4 linked regions of the Homo sapiens genome follow. The protein of the gene in region 1 interacts with the protein of each later gene in a biochemical or structural test. Each region holds a gene or a part of one and is shown in the gene's direction. Other genes may lie near its edges.

Region 1 (5,341 bases):
AATTACCTTGGGCAGTATGGCCATTTTCACGATATTGATTCTTCCTACCCATGAGCATGGAATGTTCTTGCATTTGTTTGTATCCTCTTTTATTTCGTTGAGCAGTGGTTTGTAGTTCTCCTTGAAGAGGTCCTTCACATCCCTTGTAAGTTGGATTCCTAGGTATTTTATTCCTTTGAAGCAATTGTGAATGGGAGTTCACTCATGATTTGGCTCTCTGTCTGTTGTTGGTGTATAAGAATGCTTGTGATTTTTATGCATTGATTTTGTATCCTGAGACTTTGCTGAAGTTGCTTATCAGCTTAAGGAGATTTTGGGCTGAGACAATGGGGTTTTCTAGATATACAATCACGTCATCTGCAAACAGGGACAATTTGACTTCCTCTTTTCCTAATTGAATACCCTTTATTTCCTTCTCTTGCCTAATTGCCCTGGCCAGAACTTCCAACACTATGTTGAATAGGAGTGGTGAGAGAGGGCATCCCTGTCTTGTGCCAGTTTTCAAAGGGAATGCTTCCAGTTTTTGCCCATTCAGTATGATATTGGCTGTGGGTTTGTCATAGATAGCTCTTATTATTTTGAGATACGTCCCATCAATACCTAATTTATTGAGAGTTTTTAGCATGAAGGGCTGTTGAATTTTGTCAAAGGCCTTTTCTGCATCTATTGAGATAATCATGTGGTTTTTGTCTTTGGTTCTGTTTATATGCTGGATTACATTTATTGAGAAGTTTTATTATACACACCTTTGGTGACTAATTCCAGAAACCTTAAAGATCACACAGTTTTAAATATGAAAAGCCATCATAGCATCTTGAAGATTCTCAAAGATACTTTATAAATACTCTTCACAGTAGTCTAAGACGACCACTCTCAAGGTTGAGCCAGAAAACAAGGGGAAAACAGGAGTCCTATTATACATAATGATCTCATTTGACCCTTATTTTTGAGCATGAGTTTGAAGTTCATTTTGTTCTTATAAAAGTTTTCTATGTCTTAGGCTTATTAGAAATAGTCAAAACACTGTCATCTTTTTATTCGGATTACTTTCTTAGTTTAGTTTGGTGTAGTTAATAATTCCATCAGTTATTCTCCAACTACTTAGCTAATAGAAACAGGATACTTCTTATATCCGATCCAGCAAAGCCCAGAGTAAGGCTAAGCTTGAAATAACACGCTCAAAAATTACTTTTCTTCTTCAAAGCTGTTGTTAACAAAGTTGTCAGAGAGTACACATTTGCAACAGTTTAAAAAATGGTAATAACCGTTCCTAGCACAGACCAACTTGCAAAGGGTTGTATGTCTCTGAAAGTATTCAAAGCTGTAAAATATCAGACAAAAGGATCTCCTACTTCTAAATTTTGACTTGAGCTATTCAATCTCATTTTCCCAGAAATAATATGTCAGGTCAGAGGAGAGGAGGTTAATAGACCATAATAATAATGAGGCGTCTAGCTCTACCACTGAAGTATAAAATAGAACAGTTAACATTTGGGAATATCAATAAACAGGAAGCTAAAAGCGTTGGTTTTGAGGTAAGATAAAAGATAGATAATTTGTGGGTAAAACTGCACTTTACAAAATTGGTATCACAACTAAGAACAGGTGAACTTTGCTTGCTCACGTTTTGGGGCAGTTAGGAAGTGTTAATGTGGAAAGAAAAGATGTAATAGATTCCTAAGGAGAAGGAGAGTGCTGGTCAGTTGAAAAGATACTCACTCACAACATGCCTCAAACACTTACCATAATTAAGAACTTCATTGAAGGCTCTGCTGCTAGGTAAATATACTTTGAGTTTCAAAGTGATTTTAAGAAGCATATTTTTGGATACAAATTTTATTTGGGGGACTACCTCTTAAAATATTCCCCTAAGGTATCAAGAAACTTTTCTATTAAAGGGCCACATGGTAAAGTTTTAGGCTTCGCAGTCCATACAGTCTGTCACAATTACTACCACCATTTTAATGGGAAAGAAACCATGTATGATACATAAACAAATGAGTATGGCTGTGGTCCAATAAAACTTTATTTACAAAAATAAGAAGCAGATCAGATCTGGTCATAGCCTACAGTTTGCTGCACCCAGTGGAAAAACGTTAAGCCACCCTATGTATTTTAGTCTATTTTTTATGCCCTAAAATTTCTTTGTACAAAAATCTCAACACTATTTTATTTAGTTACTTCACGGAAACCAAGGGAAGATGAAAAAGATGGCCAGGCATATAAGTTTGTGTCACGATCTGAGATGGAAGCAGATATTAAAGCTGGAAAGTATTTGGAACATGGGGAATATGAAGGAAATCTCTATGGAACCAAAATTGATTCTATTCTTGAGGTTGTCCAAACTGGACGGACTTGCATTCTGGATGTCAACCCACAAGTAAGCTGCTTGGATTCCAAAGCTGTTTTATATTTTATTTTCTGTGGAGTTTTTTTCATGTGTGTCGGGGTTGTTGGGTTGGGGTTGTTTGTTTTGTCAGGGTGGAAAGGTGACTCCCTCCATTACCTTTGGGTGATAGAGAATGTTATTATGTATACATAGCTAGTTAAATAAATCTCTGAACAATTAGCCAACAGAGGCTTGGGTGGCAATAGAAACTGTGTGATTAGATCTACAATAGAAGTTTAGTATGTATTTATTTACCTGTTCAAGTAATGCATAAGTGCTTGTGTTAAGAAATGTTAAGTTTAAAACTCAAGTCTGCAATATAAAGAATAAAAAATTAAAGTCACTCCCCCTCCTACCTGACACACATGCACACCTCTACACTATTCATTTTGTCACTCTATATTTCTGTCACCTACCCCTTCCCACTCCGCTACACTCAGCCCAACCTCACGTCCCTACTCAGAGATAAAAATTGTTAATAGTTTCTTATGTCTCTTTCTAGTCATTTCACTATGCCTTAAATACAAATATATATAAGGTAATGGGTTTTCTGTTTTTGTTGTTTCTTTTTACATAAATGGAAAAATTCTATATAGATTCTTCAGGGGTTTTATTAAATAGAACTATTCCTTGGAGATCTTTTTGTGGTAGTTACTGTAGAGCTTTTTTTCTTTGTAATTGCTATATAGTATGAATATATATTCATTTAACCACTCTCCAATTAATCAACATTGAGGTTATTTCTACTTTTTGAGTATTAACAGAATTCTACAATTAACATAAAAAAGAGTTTACATCACTCTTGATGATTTTTGGATCATTGTTTTATACTTTGTTCAAGAGGAACAGACTGAGTTCAAAACAAAATAAATGGATCACTGTTTTAAGAAAGTACTATATGGAATGAGAAGGACAGAACAGGGATAAGTATTAAGTTATGTCCTTTAATTCATAGAACAAGTGCAAACAGCCTTTGATATATACTAAAGGGTAGCAGAATTCTAGTTCTAATATTGTATAAATTGGCTTATAATTATTCTTTTACACAGGCACTGAAAGTATTGAGGACATCAGAGTTTATGCCCTATGTGGTATTTATTGCGGCTCCGGAGCTAGAGACGTTACGTGCCATGCACAAGGCTGTGGTGGATGCAGGAATCACTACCAAGCTTCTGACCGTGAGCTAACCATACGATTTTCCTTCTAAAATCTTTCCTTTTCTTTTGAGCATGTTTAACTGTTATCTAATTTATTTTTATTTATTTATTTTTGAGGCAGAGTTTTGCTTTGTCACCCAGGCTGGAGTGCATTGATGCGATCTCAGCTCGTTGCAACCTCCCCGTCCCGGGTTCAAGCGATTCTCCTGCCTCAGCCTCCCAAGTAGCTGGGATTACAGGCATGCGCTACCAGGCCTGGCTAATTTTTGTATTTTTAGTAGAGACGGGGTTTCACCATGTTGGCCAGACTGGTCTTGAACTCCTGACCTCAGGCAATCTGCCCACCTCGGCCTCCCAAAGTGCTAGAACTACAGGCGTGAGCCACCGTGCCTGGCCAACTCTTAGCTAATTATGCTTATGAAATAAACATGCTATATAAGGTGCTACAGAATGAAAATTAATTAGATGTAGTTAGGATCTGGAACAGTATTCTTTTACTTGAAAATCATTGTACACTTTATTTTAAATCAAAAGTTTAGTTCCCCTTTGTAAAATGAAATGGACCAATATTAAAATATGCGTATTAATTGAACGCCTTCATTTTACTAGTGGGGTAACTGGGCTCCGAGATCATTAACAGGCATGTTTATTATATGGTTTATCATTGGTAAAGTGGGGTGTTCTGATGTTTAGTTTCTATTACATGTTTTTTCCTTTTTTTCCTGTCTACTTTTTTACTTAATGGAAATTCAAAAATATATACAAAAGAGGGAATAAATGAGTCCCTATGCCGATCGCCTAGCTTCAATAATCGTGGCAATTTCTTGTTTTAATTAGACCCCTCCCCACTTCCTCCTCACCTTGAATTATTTTGAAGCAAATCTTTGATATCATGTCATCTGTAAATACTTCAGTATTTATATCTAAGAGATAAAGACATTTAAAACATACCATTAATACAACAAAAATTAATAAGCAGTATCTTACTATCATCTACATGCAGTCTATATTTGAGTTTCTCCAAGATTTTTTTTTTTTTTTTTTTACTGTTGATTTGTTCAAATAAGGATTCAAACAAGATCAACACATTGAATTTACTCATTGTCACCTAAATCTTTTGCCAGCTTAATTGAGGTATAATTGACACATAATAAGCTGTGCCTACCTAACATGTACAGCTTGATCAGTTTGGCCACATATTTGTACTCATGAAAGCCATTACAACCAAAATAATGAACATGTCCATCATCTCCACACATTCGCCTGTGCTCCTTTGTAACCTGCTCCCCACACCCTTCCCCCTACCACTGTCACCTTTTCCCCTCACTGTACTTGATTATATGCCATGAAATCAGGTAGTATTAGTTTTCTTTGTTCTTTTTCAAGTTGATCCATGTCTCTACTTTCTGAACGTATGAAACATAGTGTTTAATGTCTTTGCAGGTTCTAACATTTGAGTCAGTTCTGGATTGGTTTTGATTGAATGATTTTTCTCTTTATTATGAGTATATCTTCCTGCTTCTTTGCAATCCTGGGAACTTTCTTTGGATGCCAGACATTGTGAGCTTTGTTCTAGGATGCAGTTATTTGGAAATAGTTTGTTTTTTTCAGGTCTCACTTTTTAAATGTGTTAGGTAAGACCCAAGCAGTTCTCATTTTAGGGCCAGTTAATCCCCACAAATAAGGCAAGACCCATTTGGTACTCCTACCACAGGGCTTGTGAGTCATGAGATTTTCTGTTCTGGCTAAGGGGGAATAGGTACCATTCCTGGGTACCTCTAATCCTTTCTGGTGG
Region 2 (4,026 bases), on another chromosome or scaffold:
AAGTTAAATTTGGGTTGGCAAGCTTGATGAAGAGCAAAGGAAAAGTGACAGATGTTTCATGGTTCTGATTTGAACCTGTTGTACTTCCAGGGACAGATGCTGACATCCAGAAGGTAGTTGGAGGGAAGGGTCCAGGTAGGAAGTATGTTCAGGATGGAGATCTGGGCTGGAAATGGAAACTTAGAGCTTTCAGCAGAGGTTGGTCATTGGAGATGTGGCACTGAGTTAGATTGCCCAGCGAGAGTGCAGACCTGGGGTTCTCACTCCTGGTGACATTAGCATCACTTGGAAAGCTTTAAGTAAAAATACCTATGCTCAGGCTCCAGCCCTAGACATGCTAATTCATTTGACCCTGGGATGAGGCCTGGGCATCGGGAGTTTTGGAAGCACCCAGGTGATTCTAACGTGGTGTAGAGGGTAAGAAGGAAGGGGGCTGAGTCAGGAGCCCAGAAATACTCCAACCATCAAAGCAGGAGAAGTCTGCAGAGAAGGCTGAAAAGGAGCAGCCAGAGAGGTAGGAGGAAAGCCAGGAGTAGGAGGCGCTGCAGAAGGCAAGGAGAGTGCCCTGCTCGGGGGGAGGGAAAGTGCCCTGTTTCTTTCTGCTGAGAGACTTAAGGTGCATTCTCAGAAGTTCATGGATAGATAGAAAAAGAATGAATAATTTAAAAAGAAGTGTCCATTAGATCGAGCCATGGTGAGGGTGCTGGTGACCTTGGTAGGAGAAACTCCACTCAGCGCCCGCAGAATGTAGGGCCCAGTACAGACAGGTTCTTGTTGAATGAATGAATGAGTGACTTGGTGGGAATGGAAGCCAGTTTGGAGTGGGTTGAGAAGCGAGCTGGAGGTGAGGACGTGGAGACAGCATGTATAGACAGCTCTTTCAAAGAGTTTGATGGTTGAAGAGGGAGGAGAGAGATAGAAGGGAGCTGGCGAGGGGTGGGGTCAGGGAGGGCTGTCGGGAGAGCCTGGAGTGGACACTGTGGGCATGCGTGTCCGTGCAGCACATCGCCATGCAGGAGCCTGGGGGAAGGCCTTTCCCTCAGTGAGGGCTGCAGGTCTGTGAGTTAAGATCGTACCAGTGAAGTGTGTAGTGGTTACTGTTTGTTCAGGGGGCAGTCAGGAAGGCCTGGGTAGAGGGAATAACTCTTTCTGTGAATCTCTGGGAGGGAGATTTTGATGGCAGGAAATGTGATTCCTGCTGGGGGTGGCAGGCAGAAAGGGAAGGGAGCCCTTGCTCTGCAGAGAGAAGGGTGTTCCAGAAAGCCGTATTTAGGGACAAGATTAAGTTGTCTAGGGCAGGTATCCAGGGTGATAGGATTGGGAGAAGGGAGCTGGAGTAAAAGCCCTGCGGCTAAATACATGAAGAAGGCAGAGAGAGGAAAAAGCAGGGCCAGTGAGTAGCCTGTGGACAGAGGCTGGGCCCCGTGGGGAGCAGACCCACGACAGGGCTGGCCAGGGCTGCAGGGGAAGCCTGGGACGGGAGAGCCCCACAGCCTGCTGCCAGCCCAGGCTGCCCTGATGCAGGGGTCTGAGGCAGAGTTCATGCCTTTGGGCCATGGAAGGTTCTAGAAGGTGTACAAGCTATAACAATTGTTCTTATGAAGTTTACATACAAGTAGGGAGATACCATTAAACCAATCCATACAGAAGATAATTTGAGATAGGGGCTAGTGCTATGAAGGAAATACAACAGGACAATGTGATGGAGAGACGTGGGGGTGACTCTAGACTGGCTGGGCAGGGAAAGCCCCTTGAAGGAGGAGACTGAACTGAGACCTGAATAACATGAAAGAACCAAGCCCGAGGAGGTCTAGGGAAAGAATGTTACAGAGGGAACTGCAAGTGCAAAGGCCCTGAGGCAGGGGCAAACTCTGTGGGTTGGAGCAGAGGGAATAGGGTAGGGATGGAGAGGTTCTGTGCCTCTGTTTCTGACCCACCCCTTCAGACTGCCCATTCGGCTATGCACAGCTTACACCACTCGCCTCAGGCTGGCAGCGGTTCCTGGGGATGAGACTATTTTTAGACACAACTCTCCTATCCGTGGGCCTAGAACATACCGTGTCTTTTTAAGATGATCAATATGGAATGACGCTATTTATAGAGACCCCACATCAATTCTCAGAGCCTGGGAGCCCCAGTGTGGGGACAGTCCCAGGACCAGGCTTTGTGGAGGTAGGCACCACCCCTGGCACAACACTGAGGCCATCTGACATCAATTCTTTAACACTTATCTTACCTTCTCCACCCCGCCTGCCGTCACTTGTCTTCCCTGAAGAGCCACAGCCATGGGCTGGGGAGCTTGGTACCCACAGCCTCCCCCTGCAACTTCATTTCCCCAAGGGGTACCTGGTATGCCCCAAGTCCAACATAAAATTTAGTTGTGATTTGCGAAGCCAGAGTCTGATAGAACAGTTTCTCAACCTCTCTTGTCCATTCCTCACTCTGTTTACTATTCTGGAGGGGCAGAAAAGGACAGTGAAAATTCTTAAGACCTCCTAGGTTCGCCTCAGAGGGCCAGGGAGAGATCCGCCCAGGACAGGAAGAATGTAAGGTTGAACTTAGGGGCTGAGCTTCCCTGGTGGGAGGTCATTGTGGCCCAGAGCAGCCAGGCGAGACTGCCTGGAACAGGTGGGACTGGTACCCCTCCACAGAGGATGCACAGAATTCAGAGAGGTGAATGCCCAGATCATGTGACTGGGCCTGTTGTCAGGAGAGAATGTCTATGCACTGAGGCTTCAGTTCTTTCTCTCCTCTTCAGTTTCTTCTTCTGTTTAAATCTCCTAGGGAGGCAATGGAAAGTCATGTCCCCACAGAGGTATTAGCAGAGTGGAGGGATGGAGCTGCTCTCGCAGCATCTCTGTGTGCCCAGGAGGGTCTCTTGTCCACTCAGAAACCCCTGTCATCATCACCAAGGGCTTTCCTTGGCCTCCTAACAGCCCTGGGTGGCCAAGGCTGGTGCTGGCTGCCCCATAGGCTCAAGGTCACACGGGGAAGTGGGCAGAGCTCAGACAGGACTTCACCCTTACCCTTGCCCAGGGAGCCCCCGTGGTTTCTGGGAATGGATTTTGAACAGGAGAGAGGCTTCTCCTGGCACCAGGAGAAAGGTAAATGCCGTTCTGGTAGGTATTGATTCCTCGAAGGCCTGTGCAAGGCAAGAGGCCGCTTTCAAAGAGTTGGCAGAGCAGAGAGAGGTAATCTGGCTTCAGGCACCAAATCAGTTCTCAGGGTACTCAAGCTACATTAGCCATCCCCCTACACTCAGGCTTGGCTGGGAGGTACCCCAAATGATCTAAGATGGGGGAAAAATCAGACCATGGGTGGGACCAGCCAAGCCCAATCAGTGCACCCTGCCTGGCCATCAAAGCCCCAGCCTCATCGACCTGGGCCAAGCGCAGGAAAGTGGCCCAGACAAGCCCCTCAGAGCCAAGGTGCCCGCCCTTGGCTGCGCAGCTCTGCTGCCTCTGGGCATGCTCCTAGGAAGAACCCCAGCCCCGCATTCATTCTGTACTGAGCCCAGGGCTCCACTCAAGGGACACCAGCTGGTGTGGGGTACAAGGAGGCTGAGGGCCAGAGACCACCCACCCCAGCCTCTGTTCCTCATGTTCTGCTCATAGACGTGGTCAGAAGAAGACACGGGAGCTCAGCCGGCCATTTGCAGCGACAGCCTCACCACTGTGCTGGGTCAGATGCAGCACAGACTGCCAGTTAAATAAAGCGACAGCTAGTTGCCAGCAAAACTGGAAACCCAAGGAAAGCCCCCACTTGCTTGCGGAGCCTAGGTGCCTATTAGATGTCTAATTGCTGAGCTTCTGTTTCAGGAAGTCCGAGGGAAGGAGAGATAACAACTCCCTAAGGATCCCTTGGGGTCTATGGTCCCCAGAGATAGCTGGACTTCAGGTCCCTTCCAGTCCTCGCCTTTTATGATCAAATTAAGGACACGTCCCCAGATGGGTGACTTGTATTCACAGTGCATTACACAGGGAGCTTAGATCACACTCGCCAACAAATAAAAGGTAAAAATCTCAA
Region 3 (3,535 bases), on another chromosome or scaffold:
TTGTTAATTCCCCACTCAGAACTTTATCCCCTGCCCCATTATTAGATGGTTAGAAGGTGTCTGTGTCCATCCTTCACTCTCTGGAAGGTCTTCCTGATGTCTAACTGCATTCACTCATACTGTGCCTCTAGGCAGCCGGGACCACAGGCTTTTGTCCCCACGCTGTGGGATCTCCAGGGAGCTTTGGCCTAGACTGTCTCTCTCTGTGATTCCCTGTGTGTCTGTCTCTTGTGTCCTGTGGGTCTCTCTGTCTTCTCTCCTCCTCCCTCTCTGTCTTTCTTTCACCCTTTCCTTCCTTCCTGTCAACATCTTATCTGCCCCCCTCCTTCCCCTTCATCCCGGTCCCCTTTCTCTCTCACTGTCTCCTATTCTTTCTTCCTGTTTCTCTTCATCCCTGTCTCTGAGTCCCTGTTCCTCTGTCCTTGTCATTCTGCATCCATTCTTACCTCTTTGTCTGCCTTTCTCTGTTTCTCTGCCTCTGTGTGGTGTCTCACCTCCATCCTCACCTCATCCCATCACCTCCCCAGCCCTCACCCACCCACCACTCACCCACTCACTGACCATGCCCTGCCTCCCTGTCGTGGCTGGGCCTGCTTGCTCCCCGTGCCCAGCAGAATCTGAGCTCTACACATGTCTTGGAGAAACCAGGGTCTCGCAGCTCCTAATTCTGGAACCCAGGGGCTAGGCAGAACCCGAGGCAGGAGCCCAGTGAAAGGAGAAGCCCCATGGAGCTCTGCCTGGGAGTAACCAAGCCTGTTTTGTGTTTCTTGCTCTGCTCTGTATATATAGAGCTTCTCTTCCCTCCTCCGTAGCTGAAAGCCCCCAACCGGTCCGAAAGCTCCTTGAAGACCGTGCTGCCGTGCACAGACACGGGTTCCTCCTGCAGCTGGAGCCCACGGTGAATAGGCAGGCGGGCCACAGGGCCCTGTGTGTCCCTGCTGCTTGCAGTGGCCATCTGCTGCCCACGCTGTCAGCAGGTTCTTTGGACTGGCGTCTGGAGGGTACACAAGGCGCCATCCCTGAAGTGCTGCCTGGGGCCTGCTGTTGGCCACAGTGGAATTCCTCAGACTCAAAGCCCTCCCCTCAGGGAAGTGGTGCAAAGCCCAGTCTGTAGTACTTGCTTGGGACCCAGGTGTCCTGACTCATCACGGCCCTGGGACCTGCTTTGGGTCCCAAGCAGCACCCAAATGAGCAGGATGAAGCCCTGGGCAACATTCTCTGAGGGACACAGACAATGCCTCGAACCAGGCATGTGGGGCTGAAGGAGCCCACAGGAAGCCTGGCTGGAATTGCCCCCAAGAGATGTCCTCAACAGAATGTGAAAATTCCCCTTCCTGTGAATGCCAACCTCCTGGGAGCTCTTGCTCCACCATGGCCCCCACACTTGGCCAGAACCAGGGCTATTAAGAGGTTTTGAAGGCTGGTCCAAAGAACCAGGGTTGGTGGATTAGAGTTGCTCATGTCCTGTTGTGCCCTGTCATGGCCTGAGCCGTGCTTAGACCAAACGGTCTTCTCTGCCTTCTCCCTTCCTTGGCTCTGGGCTCTATCTGTGGGATATACCGTGGAACCCAGCTGTAGGATGTGTTTCTCACCCTGTGATAGGGATGTGCCCGTGGACAGAGCTGGCAGGTGGCTGTGAAACTGGTGTTTGGTGTGGCCTGAAGCCACAGATGGCAGCATCTGGGGCAGACCCAAGCCTGGACTTGACTTTTCTGTTACAACTTTCCCAAAACATTAGGGCCTCATGCTCCCAAGACACTTGGCCGGGTAGACCATGGCTTCTGGGGTGGCCTGCATGGCCCTATGTTTTCTGTTACTTGCCTTTTGCAAAGGACTCTTGCCCCTGTTCCTCCCAGTCTCCTCCTTCCCCCATCCCAGGTGTCCCTCCCGCTTTCTCCCTGGCCTCCTGTGTGCTGTGGCTGTGGCTGGTGTGTAGCCACTTGGGGCCTGCACCCAGAGGGGTCTCCAAAGGGTGGCAGGGCCTTGTGCTGCCAGAGTGGGTACTCCCCCTTGTGGGGCCTTGCTCTGGCTGGGCTGAGTGTGCACCCACAAAGCCTGTATCCACCTGGGCTGTTTCCACTTCCCTGCAGGACCTTCTTCTGAAGTCCAAAAGGGGAAACCAAATTCACCGTTAGGAAACAGTGAGCTCCGGCCCCACCTCGTGAACACAAAGCCTCGGATCAGCCTTGAGAGAGGCCACACTACACACACCAGATGGCATCCTTGGGACCTGAATCTATCACCCAGGAATCTCAAACTCCCTTTGGCCCTGAACCAGGGCCAGATAAGGAACAGCTCGGGCCACTCTTCTGAAGGCCAACGTGGAGGAAAGGGAGCAGCCAGCCATTTGGGAGAAGATCTCAAGGATCCAGACTCTCATTCCTTTCCTCTGGCCCAGTGAATTTGGTCTCTCCCAGCTCTGGGGGACTCCTTCCTTGAACCCTAATAAGACCCCACTGGAGTCTCTCTCTCTCCATCCCTCTCCTCTGCCCTCTGCTCTAATTGCTGCCAGGATTGTCACTCCAAACCTTACTCTGAGCTCATTAATAAAATAGATTTATTTTCCAGCTTATAGGAGTGAGTGTGGATTTGGGCAGCAGATTCAAGGCTGCAAATCAAAAAACCATAAGGTTTGTGGCCCCTATTCAAGGGTGATAGACAGATCCCAGTGCTGTGATCTGGGTCTGACATGAAGGGTGTGATCAAATGGCCAGGGCTGGCTTGGAGCAGAGGTTGAGAAAGCAGGAGATGGGCTGGGCTGGGCTTCAATGTCTTCTCAGCAGAGATGGTAGGAGATGAAGTCTGTGTGGCAGGGATTTTGCTCAATTCCAGAAAGCAGAGCTGAAGGCAGGAGCCCCGAAGGGTCACCTCATGATATGGGGTGCCCAGCTTCTTTCAAGAACGACACAGCCACCAATGCTTCTCCTGAGGTCACCACGACAGCATGTGAGGGAGGAAGATGGCAGGGTCCACTCCCTCCGTGGAAGCACATCCCACAGAAGCTCATGGGAAATGCAAGGGCTTGAGGCAGGAAGGCATAACTCCGGGGGCCCAGCAGGGGGAATGTCACAGTTCTTCTGGTGACAGGGACCAGGGCTGCTAGCTCTGAGGAAGAGGGTGGGGCTGTATCAGCACGACTCGCCTGACCCCGTCTCTGTTTCCCCATTCCAAATTCCTGTGGTACAATCTGATCAGGCCAAATCACCTGAGCGGGCGACCCTTGGGTTAGGGACCAGTCACAGGTCCAATCAGCTGTGGCCGGGGGTGGGGTCACATCCCACCCAACATGGCTGCTGAGGCAGCAAGGACCGTGGGCAGCAAGTCATGATCACCACCCCTACCAGAGGATGACTATGACATCTCTCCTCCCCCACCAAACCCTGGGTATGGAAAGGAAGTGGACTGGGGTCCCAAGGGAAGGCAGTCTTAGGGAGAGTGCCTCTGTGTGAGGGGACCACAGGAAAACCCCTTCCTGAGGTGGGACACTGCAGAGAGCCCCTCGGGGACACACCCACTGCCCATCCCCCAGGTTCAG
Region 4 (4,026 bases), on another chromosome or scaffold:
AAAGTGAGCTTTTCAAAATGTAAATTGGATCACATTATTCATCTGCTTAAAATCCTCCAGAAGTTTCCCATCACACTCAAAATAAAATTCAGACTTTTCATCCTGGCATACAAGGCCCAGGCAGAATCTGGCCCCCATGACCTCTCTGGGCTCATCTCTTTTGATCTCCTCTGGTTCACTTGGCTCCAGCCCCACTGGCCTTGCTGTTCCATAAACAGGCCAGAGTTTATCTGACCTCAGGACCCTTGCACTTGCTGTTTCCGCTGCCTGGAATGCTCTTCCCCAGATTCCCCCTTGGCCAGCCCCTTCTCCCCCTTCCTCATTTGAGCAGGTCCCTGCTCACATGTCCCCTCCTCATACAGACCTTCCTTGACCGCTGTTCTAAACAGTTTCCCTCCCCTCACTCTCTGTTGCATCATGCAATGCCTTTCCTGCAGAGGCCTTAAACGCCATCTGAAATTATATTTCCTTCTTTGTGTGTCTCTGTTTCACACCCACAAGAATGTGAGTACCATGAGTTGATTCACTGCTTGATTCCCAGCACCCATGATGGTGCCTGGCACTGAGGAGCATGTGGAATGAATAAATGAATGAATGAACGAATGAATGAATGAACGAATGAATGAATCAAGCAAGCAAGCAAGCAGTCAGTCACTGTGTCTCAGGGTTTGGGGACCTGTCACCCCTTCTCACTGCCCACCTGCAACCCAGGTCCCTGTGCCTCTGGCCTCCTTTGAGTCATCTGCACCTTGCCCATCCCATCCCCACCCATCCCCCCAGCTTGGATGCCTTGCTTGTCAAAACAAGCAAAGCCTGTGGAAATTGCTTAGAACTCACAGAGTGACAGGACCAAATGGAGGATCATTTCTAGGTGATTGTAAGATACAAAAGTGGCCATATCTCATATGCTGAAGAGCAAGGATGGATCTGGTTCTGTGCCACTCCCCACTTCCATAGCTTTTAGCTAATTTCTCCAACTTTCCAAGTCCCAACCTTCCACCTGTAAAATGGAGATAAAAGGCTCACCTTACAGGGTCTTCATTAAATCACATTTGTCAAAATTTTGCTCAAAGCCTAGCACATAGCAGGTGGGGATTGTTGTTATAAATGCTAAGGAAAAGAGTCTTTTTTCTAGGGCTGGGTGGGCCGAGTTGCTGCAAACCCTTTCCTTCTGAGAGCAGCAGGGCCAGGGAGACTGAGCTGACACTGTTAATAATTGATGGGATGTTCTGGCAACTCGGAGACAAACCAAAGCACAGGCCCTAGGCTTTGCCATCAGGGGAGCGAAAATCAAAACCCATTAGGCAAAAGGCAGTGTGATTGATTCTTGTTTAGAAGATGGGGACAGCCCCATTGGTGTGACAGGGTTGCGGTGCTGGGGCTACCACGGGGCTTTGGCTTTCTCGGAAAACTCGACAGGCTTTTCTCAGTAGGAGAGACAGGGAACTGATTTGCCAGCCCAGGAGTGTCTGTGATCCCTGGGATAGTCTCAGGATTAAAGCCCTGAGATAACTTCCTAATTTCCAGGGTAGCTTATGTTTGTTGTGCCCAGCACTGATTAGTGGTGCTTCATATCTGCTATCTCATTGAAATTCCTCCAACAGGGATACAACCAGGTAGTATGCCAGTTAGGGATGCTTTGGGCTGCAAGCAGCAGAATAGAAAACTCAAAGTAGCTTCAATAAGGAGGAAGATGCATCATTGAATATAATATGAAGTTCCAAGGCAGTTGGTTTTAGGTTGAGTTAATGGCTCAATGATGCCACCAGGATTCTAGATTCTTTTCATCTCTCTGCTCCTCTGCTCCCCAACCCCTGCAAGTGGCTTGGTCCTCATGCTTGATGCTTCATATCACAAGATGGCTGCCCAGTTCCAGCCCTCAGACGTACATTCAGTGATGTTTAATCCGTGAAGAGAAACATTTTCTCCTATGCTCCACTTTCTTTCTTTTGTTTTTGAAATGGAGTCTTGCTCTGTCGCCCAGGCTGGAGTGCAGTGGCATGATCTCGGCAGCTCACTGCAACCTCCGCCTCCTGGGTTCAAGCAATTCTCCTGCCTCAGCCTCCTGCCGAGTAGCTGGGATTACAGGCATGTACCACAATGCCTAGGTAATTTTGGGGTTTTTAGTAGAGACAGAGTTTCACCATGTTGGCCAGGCTGGTCTCAAATGTCTGACCTTAAGTGATCTGCCCGCCTTGGCCTCCCATAGTGATGGGATTACAGGTGTGAGCCACAGCGCCTGGCCCACTTTCTTTTTTTTTCTGAGAGGAAACCCTTTCCCAGGAGCACCCTAGCAGACTTCTTTTAAAATCCCATTGGCCAGGACAGGTCACATGCTCATGCTCTAGCTCTGAGGGAACCTGAGAAAGCAAGTGTCTGGCATTTTCAGATGAGAGAGGGAATGGATCTGATAAGTGGTATGAAGACTCTTTTACAGAACAGGAAATGGAGGCTCTGAGAGGCGAAGTCACTTGCCTGAGCCCACACAGCTAGGTTCTCAGTAAATATTTATCAAAGGAATGAAAATTGCAGAGCCAAGGTTTGAACCCAAGTTTGTCTGGTTCCCAAGCCTATGTTTCTAAATCCTGGGACCTTGGGTGGATCATTTTAGCTCTCAGGTCCAGTGAATTCATCTGCCTGATGGTGATAATAGTCATAGCTCCCTTTCAGGGCTCTTTTGATGATTCAATGAGATTTCAGATGTGAATGTAATTTGTAAATGGAAAGTACTTTATAAGTATGAAGTATTATTGTATTCAAAAGTGGGAGTGGCCTTTATTTATTTATTTTTAATTTTTTAACTTTTTTCAGAGACAGGGTCTTGCTCTGTCACCCAGGCTGGAGTGCAGTGGTGCAATCAGAGCTCACTGTAACCTCAAACTCCTGGGCTCAAGTGATCCTCCTGCCTCAGCCTCCTGAGTAGCTGGGACTACAGGTGCACACCATCACTCCTGGCTACATTAGAAATTTTTTTTTGTGGAGACAGGGTTTTGCTACATTGTGCTGGCTGGTCTCGAACTCCTGGGTTCAAGTGATCCTCCCATCTAAGCTTCTCAAAGCACTGGGATTAAAGGTGACAGCCATCATGCCCAGCTTAGAGTGGCCTTTCTTTAGGAACAGTGGTCAATATTTTTCCCATCACAGACTTGATTAAGAATCAGCTCTGGAGTCCAACAGATGCGGTTGATTTCTTGTCTCCATTGCTTACCATGAATATGACCTTGGGCAAGCCCCTTTCCTTCTCTGAGTGTCACTTTCCTTATCTAGGAAATGAGAATTATAACAGAGGCAACCATGAAGAGCTGTTAGGAGATGCCCCTAATGTAAAGAGCCTAGCCCAGCGCCTGACTCATGGGAAGCATTCAGTAAGTGGCAGCAACGATTGTTAGTGTTTTCACGGAATTCCTCTGCTCCAGCTACACGTCTCTAGTGTAATGAGGTTCCAGCTTCCTTGACCTGAGCCACAAGGATCTGTGTATTATCATCAAAAGAAATGCGGGAACCAACTCAGAATCTATGGGGCCCCTTCAGTGTGATGAGTCATCGACTTAGGCTCTTGCTGGCCCCAGCTTGGTCAAACCAGATGCCTGTTTTTATCCTGGCAGATAATATGCCAGCAATTCTGAATCCTGATTGTGGGGTCACACAGACCTGGCTTCGAATCGCAGCCCAGCCTTGTCCTAGCTGTGGACTTTGGCCAATTTGCTTCACCTCTCATCACTTCCATTTCCTAATCTGTAAGTGAGGGCGATAATAAAACCTACTCCACAGGGTTGTCTGAAGGATGAAGGATGATAGCACATGATCAGAGTTGAAGCTGTGCCTGAGAAATCCCACATCCCCACAGGATAAAGAAACCCAGAGACCCAGGATGCTCCAGTGACCTGCTGAGGATCACACAGCCCATCATAGCCTTTCAAATCCCCTGAGAGACCAGCTGCTAAGAGATGATCCTGGTCAAACATCCTGGAGTAACAGAAAGATCCCTGAGCCTCAGCGGGTACGGGTGGCGGGGCCAGAAAGGCC

Evidence for each region. Proteins that work in one complex are often made in the same cells at the same time.
Region 2: the proteins of PALS2 (region 1) and SCN5A interact in a test that uses a peptide from one of them, tested with the Homo sapiens proteins (one large-scale study listed by IntAct).
Region 3: the proteins of PALS2 (region 1) and USH1C interact in a test that uses a peptide from one of them, tested with the Homo sapiens proteins (one large-scale study listed by IntAct).
Region 4: the proteins of PALS2 (region 1) and KCNB1 interact in a test that uses a peptide from one of them, tested with the Homo sapiens proteins (one large-scale study listed by IntAct).

What each region holds. Positions count from the first base shown.
Region 1 is NC_000007.14:24,676,954-24,682,294, forward strand, and holds part of PALS2 (protein PALS2), read left to right. Parts: intron 1-2,177; coding exon 2,178-2,380; intron 2,381-3,438; coding exon 3,439-3,567; intron 3,568-5,341.
Region 2 is NC_000003.12:38,642,720-38,646,745, reverse strand, and holds part of SCN5A (sodium channel protein type 5 subunit alpha), read left to right. Parts: intron 1-4,026. UniProt on the Homo sapiens protein: Pore-forming subunit of Nav1.5, a voltage-gated sodium (Nav) channel that directly mediates the depolarizing phase of action potentials in excitable membranes.
Region 3 is NC_000011.10:17,492,932-17,496,466, reverse strand, and holds the end of USH1C (harmonin), read left to right. Parts: intron 1-789; coding exon 790-898; coding exon of another isoform or gene 899-1,114; exon of another isoform or gene 1,115-2,054; intron 2,055-2,090; coding exon 2,091-2,135; 3' UTR 2,136-2,567; downstream 2,568-3,535. UniProt on the Homo sapiens protein: Anchoring/scaffolding protein that is a part of the functional network formed by USH1C, USH1G, CDH23 and MYO7A that mediates mechanotransduction in cochlear hair cells. Required for normal development and maintenance of cochlear hair cell bundles.
Region 4 is NC_000020.11:49,475,701-49,479,726, reverse strand, and holds part of KCNB1 (potassium voltage-gated channel subfamily B member 1), read left to right. Parts: intron 1-4,026. UniProt on the Homo sapiens protein: Voltage-gated potassium channel that mediates transmembrane potassium transport in excitable membranes, primarily in the brain, but also in the pancreas and cardiovascular system.